2 separate regions of the Homo sapiens genome follow, and region 2 is linked to region 1. The links come from fine-mapping of genetic effects on gene expression. A gene starts in region 1. The other region holds a variant in brackets. All regions are shown on one strand. Distances are from middle to middle. Region 1 holds the start of ERGIC3 (ERGIC and golgi 3). Region 2 has its middle 34 kb from the start of ERGIC3.

The links.
Region 2: its variant is fine-mapped to the expression of ERGIC3 in blood mononuclear cells (TOPMed, PIP above 0.99).

What each region holds. Positions count from the first base shown.
Region 1 is chr20:35,536,912-35,545,244 of GRCh38, forward strand. ERGIC3 (ERGIC and golgi 3) reads left to right here and starts at 5,167. Exons shown (of 13, transcript NM_015966.3): 1 at 5,167-5,274; 2 at 5,412-5,482; 3 at 5,602-5,689; 4 at 5,911-6,030. The coding sequence starts at 5,187. It also overlaps the pseudogene RPL36P4. RefSeq lists an enhancer at 4,839-4,928.
Region 2 is chr20:35,572,382-35,580,714 of GRCh38, forward strand. It overlaps the pseudogene FER1L4. Among named protein-coding and RNA genes, the nearest start is that of ERGIC3, 34 kb to the left of the region's middle. RefSeq lists a silencer at 4,625-4,787. The variant T/G (reference allele first, on the strand shown) is at 3,483.

The sequences.
Region 1 (8,333 bases):
ACTACAAGTGCACGCCACCATGCCTGGCTAATTTTTTGTATTTTTAGTATAGACAAGGTTTCACTATGCTGGTCAGGCTGGTCTCAAACTCCTGACCTTGTGATCCTCCCACTTCTGACACCCAAAGTGCTGGAATTACAGGTGTGAGCCACTGCACCCGGCCAATGCTAGCTATTTTAAAAAATTATTATTATTAGCTATTATTTTTATTTTTATTATTTTATTAAGGGATATATTAATATCCATAATTAGGACTGTAACTTTCTTTCTTTCTTTTTTTTTTTTTGATTCGGAGTCTCGCTCTGTTGCCCAGGCTGGAGTGCAATGGCACAATCTTCGGCTCACTGCAACCTCTGCCTCCCGGGTTCGAGCAATTCTCCTGCCTCAGCCTCCTGAGTAGCTGGGATTACAGGCGCCCACCACCATGCCCAGCTAATTTTTGTATTTTTAGTAGAGACGGGGTTTCACCATATTGGCCAGGCTGGTCTTCTGGCCTGGCTGGTCTCAAACTTCTGACCTGGTGATCCACCCTCCTCGGCCTCCCAAAGTGCTGGGATTACAGGCGTGAGCTACCGTGCCCAGCCAGGACTGTAACATTCTTGAAGGCAAGAACTGTTCTAATTCAACTCTCTCTTCCCAGGACTCAACACAGGGCAGGGACACAGTGTGTGTGTGTGTATATTTGAGTGTTGCTTGCATACATGGATATTACATTTTAAAATCTGAATTTAGTGCAATTTTTAATTTTTATTTTTTAATAATTTTTATTTTATTTTATTTATTTTATTTAATTTTCAGACAAAGTTTCACTCTTGTCCTCCAGGCTGGAGTGCAATGGCATGATCTTGGCTCACTGCAACCTCCACCTCCTGGGTTCAAGCGATTCTCCTGTCTTAGCCTCCCAAGTAGCTAGGATTACAGGCATGCGCCACCACGCCCGGCTAATTTTTTGTATTTTTAGTAGAGATGGGGTTTCACCATGTTGGCCAGGCTGGTCTTGAACTCTTGACCTCAGGTAATCTGGCCTCCTCGGCCTCCCCTAGTGTTGGGATTACAGGCGTGAGCCACCACCCCTGGCCTTTTTTTTAAAGTATTTTTGATACAGGGTCTCACTCTGTCACCCAGGCTGGAATGCAGTGGCATGGTCTCGGGTCACTGCAACCTCTGCCCCCCACCCCTGGGTTCAAGCGATTCTCCCACCTCAGCCTCCCGAATAGCTGGGATTAGAGGCACCCGCCACCACACCCAGCTAAGTTTTTGTATTTTTTGGTAGAGATGGGATTTTGCTATGTTGGCCAGGTTGGTCTGAAACTCCTGACCTCAAGTGATCCACCTGCCTTGGCCTCCCAAAGTGCTGAGATTACAGGCATGGGCCACCGCGCCTGGGCTTAGTGCAATATTTGAGGCACTCAGATTTTTTTTTTCCTGTGCTGCTGGTTTTGGTCCTATGTGGGCAATAAAACAAGGAACCTTTCAGGAAAGTACTTCTCACACTTTAATGTGCATGCTAATTATCTGGAGAGTCTTGTTAGAATGCAGATTCTGATTCTGCAGGTTTGGGGTGGGGACTGGGATTCTGCATTTCTAACAGGTTCCCAGATAAGGCCAATGTTTCTGGTTCAAGGATCCCACTTAGGGTAGCAGAGCTTTAGACTTAATTCCATCAGCAGATTCCTTATTACCTATTTCTGATAGAATTCTTGGTGCTCTCAGGAATCTGAAGCCCAGATAATAGAGGGAGATCCCAGGTGTCCTCTGCCACCCTGTTAGCTGAGGGAGACCCAAAAACTTTGGCTTCCGTGAAAAGTCCTCCTCCAGTTGTCCCCAAAGTTGTAGCATGAGTCCTTCCAAATCTTTTCTCATGATTATACAAATACATATTCCCCCATATAAGATTAAGATTTTTATATATAGATAGATTTTTTTTTTATTTAGGTTTTTTTTTTTGTTTTTTTTTTGAGACGGAGTGTGGCTCTGTCGCCCAGGCTGGAGTGCAGTGGGGCAATCTCGGCTCACTGCAAGCTCCACCTCCCAGGTTCACGCCATTCTCCTGCCTCAGCCTCCCGAGTAGCTGGGACTACAGGCGCCCGCTACTACGCCCGGCTAATTTTTTGTATTTTTAGTAGAGACAGGGTTTCACCATGTTAGCCAGGATGGTCTTGATCTCCTGACCTCGTGATCCGCCCGCCTCGGCCTCCCAAAGTGCTGGGATTACAGGCGTGAGCCACAGCGCCCGGCCTATGTTTTACATATATAACAATTTATATATAACTACATATATAATATATATAACAGTTTATATATATATATAACAGTTTATATATATAATATATATAACAGTTTATATATATATATATAACAGTTTATATATATAATATATATAACAGTTTATATATATAATATATATAACAGTTTATATATATAATATATAAGTTTATATATTATATATAACAGTTTATATATAACAGTTTATATATAATATATATAAGTTTATATATAACAGTTTATATATATAATATATATAAGTTTATATATAATATATATAAGTTTATATATATGTTTATATATAATATATATAACAGTTTATATATATAATATATATAACAGTTTATATATATAATATATATAACAGTTTATATATATAATATATATAACAGTTTATATATATAAAATATATAACAGTTTATATATATAATATATATAAGTTTATATATATAATATATATAACAGTTTATATATATTATATATATATATATGCACACACACAAAGAGAGAGAGAGAGACTCGCTCTGTCGCCCAGGCTGTAGTGCAGTGGTGTAATCACAGCTCACTATGAGGCAGGAGAACAGGGAATCAGGGTAACCGGGGGTTAAGACATAAGCAAATGAAGGGGTGCAGCCAGTTCTAGGCAGCATACAGGCCACATCTTCAATCCTATGATAACGAGACAGAAGTTTCCACTTCCGCCTCCGATTGACCGTGGGGCCAAATCTCCACTTCAGCCTCTGATTGGCTGTGGGCCAAGTCTCCACTTCAGCCTCTGATTTGGTCGCAGGCCAATCCTTCATAGGTGTAGCCAACTGGAGGCTTCTAAAGGGCACCTAGGGGTGTTGCCAGGTCCCTTTAGCTTAATACAAACCCTGATTGAGGAGGCTCTTGAGCAGCTTGCTCTAACCAGCTGCCGCTATGAATCGTCTTCAATAAATCTATGCTTTTGTTATTCCGTTCTTCTGTTGCTGTTTGTCTTTCGTTGCCCTTCTGTTACTTTATGTGTTTTGTTCAACACGCCAAGAACCTGGACAACTCTATGCTGGTAACAACTGCAGGTAACCTGGTAACAACTGCAGTTTCAAACTCTCCTGGGCTCAACCCCAGCCTCCCAGGTAGCTGAGACTATAGACGCATGCCACCACACCTGGCTAATTTTTTTATTTTTATTTTTATTTTTGGAGACAGAATCTCACTCTGTCGCCCAGGCTGGAATGCAATGGCATGATCTCGGCTCACTGCAACCTCCGCCTCCCAGGTTCAAGCGATTCTCCTGCCTCGGACTCACAAGTAGCTGGGTTTACAGGAGCACACTACCACGCCTGGCTAATTTTTGTATTTTTAGTAGAGATGGGGTTTCACCATGTTGACCAGGCTGGTCTCAAACTCCTGAACTCAAGTGATGCTTCCTGGCTCGGCCTCCTGAAGTGCTAGGGTTACAGATGTAGTTTTTAAAGTTTTTGTAGAGTGGGGTCTTGCTGTGTTGCCCAGGCTGGTCTTAGACTCCTGGCCTCATGTGATCCTCCTCGGTCTCCCAAAGTGCTGTGATTACAGGTGTGAGCCATTGTGCCCAGCCCAATTTTTAATTAAAAAATGGAATGATGGAATGCACATTACTTTGCATCTTTTCCCCCTTAAAAATACATTCTTAGTATACCTAAAGGAGTAAATCTACCTCATTCTTTTGAAAAGTGGCCTAATATTCCATAGAATGGGTGTATCGTGATTTATTCAATTTATTTAATGTATCAGTGGGCATTCTGGCTGGTTCCAGATTTTTGCCATTGAACAATCTCATGCATACATCTTTATGATGTGGTGCACTTAAAATCTTTAAGAGACAGATTCAATATCTTAAGGTGTAACAACCACCCAGATCATGGTACTTTTATCCTTATATTAAAATTTTTTTCTGTTAACCTTGGATAGCTGCTTACATATTTTTTCTTTTTCAAAATTTTTCTATTAACCTTGACATGGTGCTTTTACTTCCTAAAGTGGAATTCCTGTATGAAAGCCTATGAGCTTTTATATCTTACTCATTGCAGCTGCATTACTGTGGGAGCTGTCCCTCTAGAGACACTGGGCTGCAATGGGAAGTGTCAGGGAGAGCTTAAGCTCCATATCACTTGAGTCTAAACCTGGAGGGATAGAGCGTGTCCGTGAGGATCCCAGGGCCTGGAGAGCAATTTAGGGTAATATTCAGAAAGCAGCGCTCAGGAGAAGCACTGGGACGCTGTTTAGGTAAAATCAACCCAAAAGACCCTGATTCCCAGAGTACTTTGAGGTCCAGAAGAACTGGGCTGGAAGCAGGTCCTGCTATTAATTGGCTGTGATCTTGGGCAAGTTATTTAACTTCTCCAGGTCACAGTTTGCTCTTTGGAAAACGGAGATAAGTCACACCTGCTTTCAGGGCGGACACCCTTACTTTACATCAGAATCATCCGATGCCATTCCTAGCGTTTCGGCTTCAGTAGGTGGGAATCAATTATTTGCATTTCTAATAGGTAATCAGTTGATAATGATGCGGCCGGTCCGGTACACTCGAAAAACCACTGTTCCAGGATATTCCAAGATGTTCCAAGAGTCTTAAACACCTGGTGCAGTTCCGAGCACAAGGCACACGAACGGTGCTATTAGCGTTTCTAACCCCGCAGAGAACTCCTCGCACCCCAGTCCTCAAAATCCCGCCCCGGACAGCGGAGGCCGGGGCAGTAGCTTCCAGACCCAATTGCCCGCGCAAGGGGGCGTGGCAGCATCGTTGGGCGGGGCCGCCTGTAAGAGAACGCGGCTAAAGGTGGGGCCAAGCGTGCGGTTTGCTGCGCCTGCGTGAGGAAAAAGAGGGGGGCGTGGCTCCAGGCCGGAAGAGGGAGTCTGTAGGGGCGGGCCGGCTGGCGTCCCCTTTCCGGCCGGTCCCCATGGAGGCGCTGGGGAAGCTGAAGCAGTTCGATGCCTACCCCAAGACTTTGGAGGACTTCCGGGTCAAGACCTGCGGGGGCGCCACCGGTAGGCCGCAGCGGGGCCGGGGTCGCGTGGAGGGGGGCGTCCTAGAGCTTAGCCCGGGCTCCTGGACTCTGACTGGCCTGCCGGTGTCTGAGGGAGCGGATTCGAGGCCATTCTGACCCTCGCCCCTTGTCCTGCAGTGACCATTGTCAGTGGCCTTCTCATGCTGCTACTGTTCCTGTCCGAGCTGCAGTATTACCTCACCACGGAGGTAAGGGGCGGGGCTTAGTGCGTGGGCGGGGCTTGGCATTCTAGGAGTAGGACCTTTAGGGGTGGGAGTGGGGAAGGAGAGGTTTGGGGCTAAGTCTTACTGAGGTAGCGCTGCCCCAGGTGCATCCTGAGCTCTACGTGGACAAGTCGCGGGGAGATAAACTGAAGATCAACATCGATGTACTTTTTCCGCACATGCCTTGTGCCTGTGAGTACCTCACCATGGGTGGGACTGGAGAGACCCAGGGTTCTCATGTGGGCTGCCAGATTCACACCTCCACCCTTAGGTTCTGGACTGGACCCCAGGACAACCTCCTTCTCCTCATCCCGTTCTGCCCCAAGACAGGCCCAGTATCCCCTTCCCCTCCAAAACCCACATCCCCTTGTCCCTAGGGTCCCAGTACCTTAGCCTGATTTTCCTGCTTCCAGATCTGAGTATTGATGCCATGGATGTGGCCGGAGAACAGCAGCTGGATGTGGAACACAACCTGTTCAAGCAACGACTAGATAAAGATGGCATCCCCGTGAGCTCAGAGGCTGAGCGGCATGGTAACCAGGGGAGGGGGCCGGGTCTCAGATCCCAAAGCTGGATGTACCCAAGCCTATCTGCTAGCAAGTGAACTGTGGCAGGCATAGTGATACATTAAACAACTAAGAGCTAGAGAAGTCAAGTGACTTGCCTAGGGTCCCCCAGCTAGTAAGAGTCAGAGTGAGCTAAAATCCTCTATACATATCGAGTCAGGTAATCTACCTGGCTATTATTCTCAGAGGTCCTCAATACCTGCAGATGGTAGTTTGAATACCAGAGGTTTGAAGATAGGTCTTATGTGCTCTTGCCTTGGTAGAACTGTCTAGATGGACCCAGGCTTCTTTGAGTGTTTGCTTTCCCAGCCCATTGGCTTAATTCAGCCCTTAATGCTCTTCCCCTTTGGAATGCAGGTGGTTTAATGAGAATTTAGGTTCTCAAGTCAGATTGCCTGGGTTCACATCTAGCTTTGTCTCCTGCAGTCTGTGAGCTTCAGCTAGAAAGTGGTAATAAAACAGTAGTACCAACCACATGGAATTGTAAGATCAAATGAAGTCATATGTGTAAAATGCCTGGTACAGAGTGGGTACCCACTTTTACCTTCCTTTCCTTTATCTTGGTGGCTTCCCAATTCCCTTCGTTAACTCAGTTTCCCACCACAGCAAACTGTCCTCAAAGCTGGGATTTCTAACACCTTAGAGATTACTCTGGTGGGGAGTTTTATCATTCGTTGTTTCAGCAGATTAATGCAGGACACCAGTGGAACCAACATAATTTGCTATAGGACTGGATGTGGAGTGGAGGAGAGCAAAGTCATGGTTGTTGATTCCAACGCTTTCAGCCTGAGCAAATGAATGACTTGAGATGGAGATGACTGGAGGAGAAGGTTTTTTTGGTGGGAGGGAGGAGTGGCTATTGGATATCCACTGCTGTGTAACAAAGTACTCCAAAAGTTAGTAGTTTGATACAATAAAAATGTGTTTTTTCAGTTTCCCTGGGTCAGGAATTTAGGAGTGGCTTGTTTGGGTGATTCGGGATTAGGGTATCTCACGAGGTTGCAGTCATCTAAGGATTGATGGGGCACTGAAGAATCTACTATCTATCTATCTATCTATCTATCTATCTATCTATCTATCTATCTATCTGTCTATCTTGAGACAGAGTCTCACTTTGTCGCCCAGGCTGGAGTGCAGTGGCGCGATCTTGGCTCACTGCAACCTCCGCCTCCCAGGTTCAAGTGATTCTCCTGCCTCAACCTCCCGAGTAGCTGGGATTACAGGCCTGTGCCACCATGCCCAGCTAATTTTTTGTATTTTTAGTAGAGACGGGGTTGCACCTTGTTGGGCCAGATGGTCTTGATCTCTTGACCTTGTGATCCACCCGCCTCAGCCTTCCAAAGTGCTGGGATTACAGGCATGAGCCACTGCGCCTGGCCTACTTATTTGTTGTTTAAATTTATTTTTTTTCTGTCAAGGTGTTCTTTATTTCAGAGAGAGGGCAGGACAGGGGGCTCAGTCTTTCTTGGCATCAGCTTTCCTCATGATGGCTGGGACATTGCTCAGCTCCTCCTGCCTCCTCTTAGTGCGGATGTGCGTCCCCACTCTTTTCTTGATGAACTTGAGGGCCCGTTTGTCCTTGGAGACCTTGAGTAACACCATGGCGTGCCGCTCATACGGGGCGAAACCACACACCTCTCGGATCATGTCCCACATGAATTTGGTGTTTGGTCAGGCGCCCGCGGCGGCAGCTGTGCCTGGGCTTGCTCATGTTCTTGGTCATCTTGTGGCCCTTGTCAAGGCACACGGCCATAGTGGGTAGCACAGAGCCATGGCTGCTGCTCTCCAATGGCAGCTGTGGCAGAAGGGCTGGTGCCACGCGGGGATCTACTTTTTTTTTTTTTTTTTTTTTGAGTCACGCTCTGTCACCCAGGCTGGAGTGCAATGGTGCGATTTCAGCTCACTGCAACCTCTGCCTCCCGGCTTCAAGTGATTCACCTGCCTCAGCCTTCTGAGTAGCTGGGGTTACAGGCGCCTGCCCCCACACCCGGCTACTTTTTGTATTTTTGGTAGAGACAGGGTTTCACCATCGTGGCCAGGCTGGTCTCAAACTCCTGACCTCAGGTGATCCACCCGCCTTGGCCTCCCAAAGTGTTGGGATTACAGGCATGGGCCACCACGCCCAGCAGGGGATCTGCTTTTAAAGGGCTCACTCATAGGGCTGTTGGCAGGATGCCTCAGTGCCTCACCACATGGGCCTCTCAGTAGGGTTGCTTGTGTGTCCTTGTATCACGGCAACTGGCTTCCCCCACTTGGATCTTGCAAGTGAG
Region 2 (8,333 bases), 35 kb after region 1:
CTCATGATCTGCCTGCCTCGGCCTCCCAAGTGCTGGGATTACAGGCGTGAGCCACTGCGCCCGGCCGACTGGAAAGTATTTCAAAGTAGCCAGTGTAAACATGTTCACAGAACTGAAGGCAAGCTTGATTAGAGAAGTAAAGGAAGGTATGATGATAACGTTGCATCAAATAGAGAATATCAATAAAGAGATATACATTTTTTTTTTTGTTTTTGAGAGAATCTCACTCTGTCACCCAGGCTCGAGTGCAGTGGTGTGATCTCAGCTCACTGCAACTTCTGCCTCCCAGGTTCAAGCAATTCTCCTGCCTCAGCCTCCCAAGTAGCTGGGACTACTGGCACATGCCACCACACCCAGCTAATTTTTTGTATTTTTTTTAGTAGAGACGGGGTTTCACCGTGTTAGCCAGGATGGTCTCGTCTCCTGACCTCATGATCCACCCGCCTCAGCCCCCCAAAGTGCTGGGATTACAGGCATGAGCCACCACACCCAGCCAAGCCATACATTTTTTTAAAAAGAACCAAATGAAAATTCTTGAGTTGAAAAGTACAATAACTAAAATTTAAAATTCACTAGAGAGGCTCAATAGTAGATTTGAACAGAAGAAAGAATTGGCAAACTTGAAGCTAGATCAAAAGCGATTATGTAAGCTGAAGAACAGAGAGAAAAGAGAAAAAAGAAAAATGAAATAGAGCCTCAAACAAATGTGGAACACCATTAAGTACACCAACACACGTATAATGGGAGCATTAGGAGGAGACAGAGAGCTGGGTGCAGTGGCTCACGCCTGTAATGAGGCAGGCGGATCATTTGAGGTCAAAACTTTGAGACCAGCCTGGCCAACATGGTGAATGAAACCCCATCTCTAAAATTAGCCAGGCATGGTGGTGTGTGCCTATAGTCCCAGCTATTCCGGAGGCTGAGGTGGGAGAATCACTTGAACCCAGGAGGTGGAGGTTGCAGTGAGCTGAGATTGTGCCATTGCAGTCCAGCCTGGGCAACAAGAGTAAGACTCCATCTCAAAACAACAACAAAAAAAGAAGGCAGGCTGGGCACGGTGGCTCACACCTGTAATCCCAGCACTTTGGGAGGCCCAGGCGGGCGGATCACCGGAGGTCGGGAGTTTGAGACCAGCCTGACCAACATGGAGAAACTCTGTCTCTACTAAAAATACAAAATTAGCAGGATATGGTGGCACATGCCTGCAGTCCCAGCTGCTTGGGAAGCTGAGGCAGGAGAATCCTTTGAACCTGGGAGGCAGAGGTTGCAGTGAGCCAAGACAGTGCCATTGCACTCCAACCTGGGCAACAAGAGCGAAACTCCGTCTCAAAAAAAAAAAAAAAAAAGAGCTAGAGAGAGAGAAAAGAAGAAAAAAGAAAGTCTGAATATCCAATACTATCATTACTTTTGTTGTTGTTGAGACAGAATCTTGCTCTTGTTGCCCAGGCTGGAGTGCAATGGCACAATCCTGGCTCACTGCAACCCCCACCTCCCAGGTTCAAGCAATTCTCCTGCCTCAGCCTCCCAAGTAGCTGGGATTACAGGTGCCTGACACCACACCCAGCTAATTTTTGTATTTTTAATAGAGACAGGGTTTCACCATGTTGGCCAGGCTGGTCTTGGACCCCTGGCCTCAGACTCCCAAAGTGCTGGGATTACAGGCGAAAGCCACTGTGCCCAGCCTCATTACTTATTCTGTTGCCCCAATTTTTCAAGTCTTAACCATTAGGAGCTCCTTCAGGTTGGCTCCTGTGTTCATTCTTTCATCAAGCCCCCATCCTTTTTTGAGCACTTCCTTACTCCTGCCCCACAAGATGCTCCAGATTTGACTTATATTTTCCCAGTCCTAGTCCTGGAATCAACTCCAAGGAGTCCTTAATCCTTTTATTAAATAATGGTTTTTAGAAACCAAAATCTGGGCACCTGGTTTGCTCACTGCTACTAGGATGTTGTTGATTCTAGGCCTTCTCAGCAAACGGAGATAGCAAACATGAATAACATAATCCACATATATATACACATATCTATATTTCTGTATCTTTCCATCTGTGTATATTTAAAAACATGAGTTTATACAGATACTTCTGTTTCTGATCTAATACCACAGCATTCATTTAATCCCCTTTCCTTATCTGTAACTTCTTTCTCCAACAGTAAGAAACCTGGTTCTCATTATCTACAATATAGTTTACTTATTCATGTATACCAGTATACACATAATATAGTTTCAGAATTGCTAACACATACTTCTAACTAGATGACAGCATTTATGTTCAGCTCTCTTTATCTTTAGTTTAGTTGGTTTTTTGTTTTGTTTTTGTTTTTTGTGACAAGCTCTCTCCCTGTCATCCAAGCTGGAGTGCAGTGGCACAAGCTTGGCTCACTGCAACCTCCTCCTCCCAGCTTCAAACAATGCTCCTGCCTCAGCCTCCAAAACAGCTGGGACTACAGGCACGTGCCACCATGCCCAGCTAATTTTTGTATTTTTAGTAGAGACGGGGTTCACCCTGTTAGCCAGGCTGGTCTCAAACTCCTGACCCTCAGGCGATCCACCCAATTTAGGCAATCCACCTGCCTCAGCCTCCTGAAGTGCTGGCATTACAGGCATGAGCCACCACACCCAGCCACATCCAGCTAGTTTTTTAATCTTTTGTAGAGATGGAGTCTCACTTTGTTGCCCAGGCTGGTCTTGACCTCCTGGGCTAAAGTGATCCTCCTGTCTTGGCCTCCCAAAGTGCTGGGATTACAGGTGTGAGCCACTGCACCAGGCCCATCTAGAGTTTTATAGAGCCCTGTCAAATTACTGTTTTCCAGAGTTACTTGGTTTTGTTCTTCACTTCCTTCAGTGTGGTTATATTGTTCATTTGTAATACAGTGAGGGTCATTTGTTAGTGTTTGTATTCCATGTTAGGTTTCCTCAACACTGTGATTGCTTTTAATTTTCTGTCTATTGTAGGGGCATGTGAAACACTGCTACAGTTCTAAGAGTCAGAGGTATACAAAAAGATCTACTTTGAGAAGTGTCATTTTTGTCCTCATTCTCGCAACCCTGACCCCTTTCCCCCTTTCGTTCCATCCCTTTGCCACTCACTTTCTTTTTTGTTTTTTTTTTTTGGAGACGGAGTCTCGCTCCGTCACCCAGGCTGGAGCGTGGTGGCGCAATCTTGGCTTACTGCAACCTCCGCCTCCTGGGTTCAAGTGATTCTCCTGCCTCAGCCTCCCGAGTAGCTGGGACTACAAGCATGAGCCACTATGCTCAGCTAATTTTTGTATTTTTAGTAGAGATGGGGTTTCACCATGTTGGTTGGCCAGAATGGTCTCGATCTCTTGACCTCGTGATCCACCCGCCTCGGCCTCCCAAAGTGCTGGGATTACAGGCGTGAGCCACCACAACCGGCTCCGAGATATCTTTAAGAATACTTCAAGGCCCTGCTGAACTCAGTATGAAAACTGCACCAATGGACAAAGTTGGACAAAGGTAT[T/G]TGGTAACAAGCCTTCTGAAGCCTGAGATTCAGCCCTGTTCTCATCCTAGAATTATACGTGCCATTCTACAGGACTAGAACTACAAACAGGGGTCAGGAGACCAACTCCCAATTCTGGTTCTGCCATGAACATGCTTTATAACCCTAGGGGATCTCCTAAATTTGTGGATTCAATTTCTCACCTGAAAAATGAAGAACTTGAACTCTGTGATCACGAGGTTCCTCCCAAAGCCTTCCTTCTGTAGGTTTTGTGTACATTACCTTAGCTATAGTTGGAGGCGTGCCAGGGCTATGGAGACTCACCTTTACAACATACACTCTGACCAGGAGCTTGATGGGCCGGTTCTGTGGGATCCCCCGGGAGATCTGGGGCTCAGAGAACAACACTGCCTCTGATTCAGGGTAAATGAGGAAGGAGCCCTGAGTTGGGGGGAGACAGAAAAAGCTCTGGTAAGATAATTGTCCTCCTGAATCCCCACCTGGGCTCCCTGGTTCCGCTTTCCTTCCCCAAATGTACCTTGAACTTGCCCACAAGGTGTCCAGATCCTTCCTCTTCTCCACCTCCATCCTGGCCCCCTTGCCCTCGGTACAGAGGAAACACATTCAGCCAGTCTTCAAAGTGGTTAAATTCTTCCTTCAGGGACCTGTTGTAGATCTAAAAGGCAAGGACTTCAGCAACAGCCCGATGTCCAGAATCCAAAGGAGACTTTCCTCTTCCCAGTACCCAGTCACCTTCAGGGTGGCAACTGCTTTTTTTGGGGACACAGTGCCTTTGACTTCAGCCTCACCCTGGTCTTGGATCTCCCCAACCATAGAAATGAGGTTGACCCCATCTGGAAACAGCAAAAATGCCCCAGTCAGAAATATCTGGGTGGGTAGGGGATGGGCAGATGGAACCAGAGCAAAAAGCCCAATCTGTTACCTGAATCTCCAGGATCATCCATTTCATCTTCATCAAAGTTGTGCTGAAATTAAAGAGCAGATCCAGAGATTCTTCCCCATCCCCTTCAACCCCTTAGTCTACCCCCTTTTCCAGGAGAGTTGGGAAACCTTCACTCAAGTTCCCACTGTGTATGCCACTTGCATTTTTAAAGCTCCAATTTATCATCCAGCCTGCCCTGTCTAGGGCAGTCACCACCAGCCACACGTGGCTACTGAGCAGTCAAAACGTGGCTAGTCTGAATTGCAATGTGCTGTAAGTGGCCAGGCTTGGTGGCTCATGCCTGGAATCCCAACACTTTGGGAGACTGAGGTGACTACTTGAGGCCAGGAGTTCGAGATCAGGCTGAACAACACAGTGAGAACCTGTCTCTATGAAATAAATGCTTTTTAATTTTTATTTATTTATTTTTGAGACAGACTCTTGCTGTGTAGCCCAGGTTGGAGTGTATTGGTGTGAACATGGCTCACTGTAGCCTCAACCTCCGAGGCTCAAGTGATCCTCCCACCTCAACCTCTTGAGTCGCTGGGGCCACCGGCGTGTACCACCATGCACAGCTACTTGTTTTCATTTTTAGTAGAGATGGTGTCTCACCATGTTCCCCAGACTGTTCTCAAACTCCTGGCTTCGAGTGATCCTCCCACCTCAGACTCCCAAAGTGCTGGGATTACCGGCATGAAACACCACACCCAGGAAAAAAAAAGTTTGTAATTAGCTGAGTGTAGTGGTATGTACTTATGGTCCTAGCTACTGGGGAGGCTGAGGTGGGAAGATCACTTGAACCCAGGAGTTTGAGACCAGTCTGGATAACAGATAAAGACCCCATCTCTAAAAATAAAAAGAAAAGAAAGAAAAAGATGTGCGATAAGTATAAAATAAAAACCGGATTTTTAAATACTTAGTACAAAAAACAAGAATGTAAAATATCTCAGAAATTTTATGATTACTTGTTGAAGTTTTTTTTTTTTTTTTTTTTTTTTTTGAGAGACAGAGTTTCACTCTGTCACCCAGGCTGGAGCACAGTCTCGGCTCACTGTAACCTCCACCTCCCAGGTTCAAGCGATTCTCCTGCCTCAGCCTCCAGAATAGCTGGGATTAACAGGTGCCCAGCACCACGCCCGGCTAATTTTTGTATTTTTAGTAGAGACGGGGTTTCGCCATGTTGGCCAGGCTGGTCTCGAACTCCTGACCTCAAGTGATCTGCCTGCCTCAGCCTCCCAAAGTGCTGGGATTACAGGCATGAGCCACTGTGCCCAGCCTTGAAATGGTATTTTGAATATATTACTAAAATTAATTTCACCTGTTTCGTTTTACTTTTTTTTTTTTTTTTTTTTTTGAGAGGGAGTCTCGTTCTGTCGCCCAGGCTGGAGTGCAGTGGCGCAATCTCGGCTCACTGCAAGGTCCGCCTCCCAGGTTCACACCATTCTCCTGCCTCAGCCTCCTGAGTAGGTGGGACTACAGGCACCCGCCACCATGCCCCGCTAATATTTTTTGTATTTTTAGTAGAGACGGGGTTTCACCATGTTAGCCAGGATGGTCTCAATCTCCTGACCTCGTGATCCACCCGCCTTGGCCTCCCAAAGCGCTGGGATTACAGGCGTGAGCCACCGCGCCTGGCCCCTTCTACTTTAATGTGGCTACTACAAAAGTTAAAATTACGTATGTGGCTCGTGTTATGTCTTTTGGACAACACAGCTCTAGATAATGGAGTTAATAATCCCCAGCTTCTAGAATTGTGAAGAAAAGAGGACTATAATGAAGAGCTCTGAAAAACTGTAGAGCTCCACCTTCAATGAGATCATTCTTGTTTTTTGTTTGTTTTTTGAGACGGAGTCTCACTGTCACCCAGGCTGTTGTGCAATGGCATGATCTCAGCTCACAGGAGCCTCTGCCTCTGGGTTCAAGTGATTCTCCTGCGTCAGCCTCCTGAGTAGCTGGGACTACAGGTGCGCGCCGCCATGCCTAGCTAAGATATCATTCTTTTTACCATTTACACCCCAGCCCCCTCCCTGGGACCCTTCTCTGCCCCCACCTGCCCCTGGAGCTCCTGCAGCGACGCATAGTACTTGGACCCCCAGTCGAGCTCCTCTGGATCTGGGATGTCTTCCTCCAGCCCAGGGCCTTGATTTAGGAGGCCTCCTAGTGGGAGCTTCTTCAGAGGAGGCTGAGGAAGAGCAGACTTTGTCCCTCTAACCCAGCACCATCCCAAGTACTGCCAGCCCCTTCACCATCTATCTCCTCTACCCCATCACCTTCAGGAGCTGTCTGGATATACCCGCTTCAGCCAAGAAGGGATCCAGGGACTTCTGTCCTGGGAGGGGGAAAATGGCAGCATGAGGAGAGTGGGTAAGTAGAAGTCAGATTCCACACCCCATCGGAGGGCCCTCTGGAGCCACGTCCACCAGGAATCAGAGGGGCTTCTGTCTGGTGTCCCTGAAGGAGAAGGTTCCTAACCTTGAGGTCCCTTGGGCATCATATCCCCTGTCTCCTCCATCTCTCCTTCCTCCTCAGGAGGATCCTCATGACCCCGAAATGTGAATCGCAGCATGTGGGGGACAATGTGGGAACCCACAAGGACTGTGTGGCCAAAGGCCCGGCGCTCAATCACCAAGATGCTGAGTGGAGGCTGCAAGTAAGGCTGCTCCGGCAAGTCCTGGGGGTGGAAGAGAGGAGCTGTGTCTTTGAAGACCTGGGGAACAGGGAAAGGTAGCCACAGAGACAGGTAGGAAAAAAAATACATCTAAACCTGCATTCTAAGCCCAGCTCTGCCATAGCCTCACTGTGTAATCTCTGGTAAACCATTGCCTTCTCATCCTGTTTCCTAGCTAAAAAAGGGACACAGGCCGGGCGCAGTGTCTCATGCCTGTAATCCCAGCACTTGGAGAGGCCAAGGTGGGCAGATCACAAGTTCAGGAGTTCGAGACCAGCCTGGCCAACGTAGTGAAACCCCATATCTACTAAAAATACAAAAATTAGCTGGGCGTGGTGGTGAGCACCTGTAATCTCAGCTACTCGGGAGACTGAGGCAGGAGAATCGCTTGAAAACAGAAGGTGGAGGTTGCAGTGAGCCAAGGTCACACCACTGTACTGCAGTCTGGGCAACAACAGCAAAACTCCATCTCAAAAAAAAAAAAAAAAAAAAAGGGACACAATCCTGGATTCAAAAGACTGTTGTAAATATCAAATGACATAATAGAAACATAAGTACTTTGGAGCCTACAAAGTGCTGTCAGAAGCTGGGCATGGTGGCTCATGCCTGTAACCCCAGCACTTTGGGAGGCTGAGGCAGGCAGACTGCTCAAACTCAGGAGTTCGAGACCAGCCTGGGCAACATGGCAAGACACCATCTGTACCAAAAATACAAAAAAATAGCCGGGCATAGTGGTGCGCACCTGTGGTCCCAGCTACTCAGGAGGTTGAGGTGGGAGGATCACTTGAGCCCAGGGGGCGGAGGTTACAGTGAGCCAAGATTTGCACTCCAGCCTTGGTGACAGAGCAAGAGACCCTGTCTAAAATATATATGTGTATATACACACACACACACACAAATATATTTTTTGGCTGGGCATGGTGGCTGACACCTGTAATCCCAGCACTTTGGGAGGCCAAGGCAGGCAGATCACTTGAGGTCAGGAGTTTGAGACCAGCCTGGCCAAGATGATGAAATCCTGTCTCTACTAAAAATACAAAAAAATTAGCTGGGTGTGGTAACGGGTGGCTGTAATCCCAGCTACTTGGGAAGCTGAGGCAGAAGAATAGCTTGAACCTGGGAGGCACAGGTTGCAGTGAGCCGAGATCGCGCCACTGCAGCCTAGGCAGCAGAGTGAGACTCTGTCTTAAAATATATATTATGGTTTATTTTATTTTATGGTTAAAGGCCATATATATATATATATAAAATATATATATAT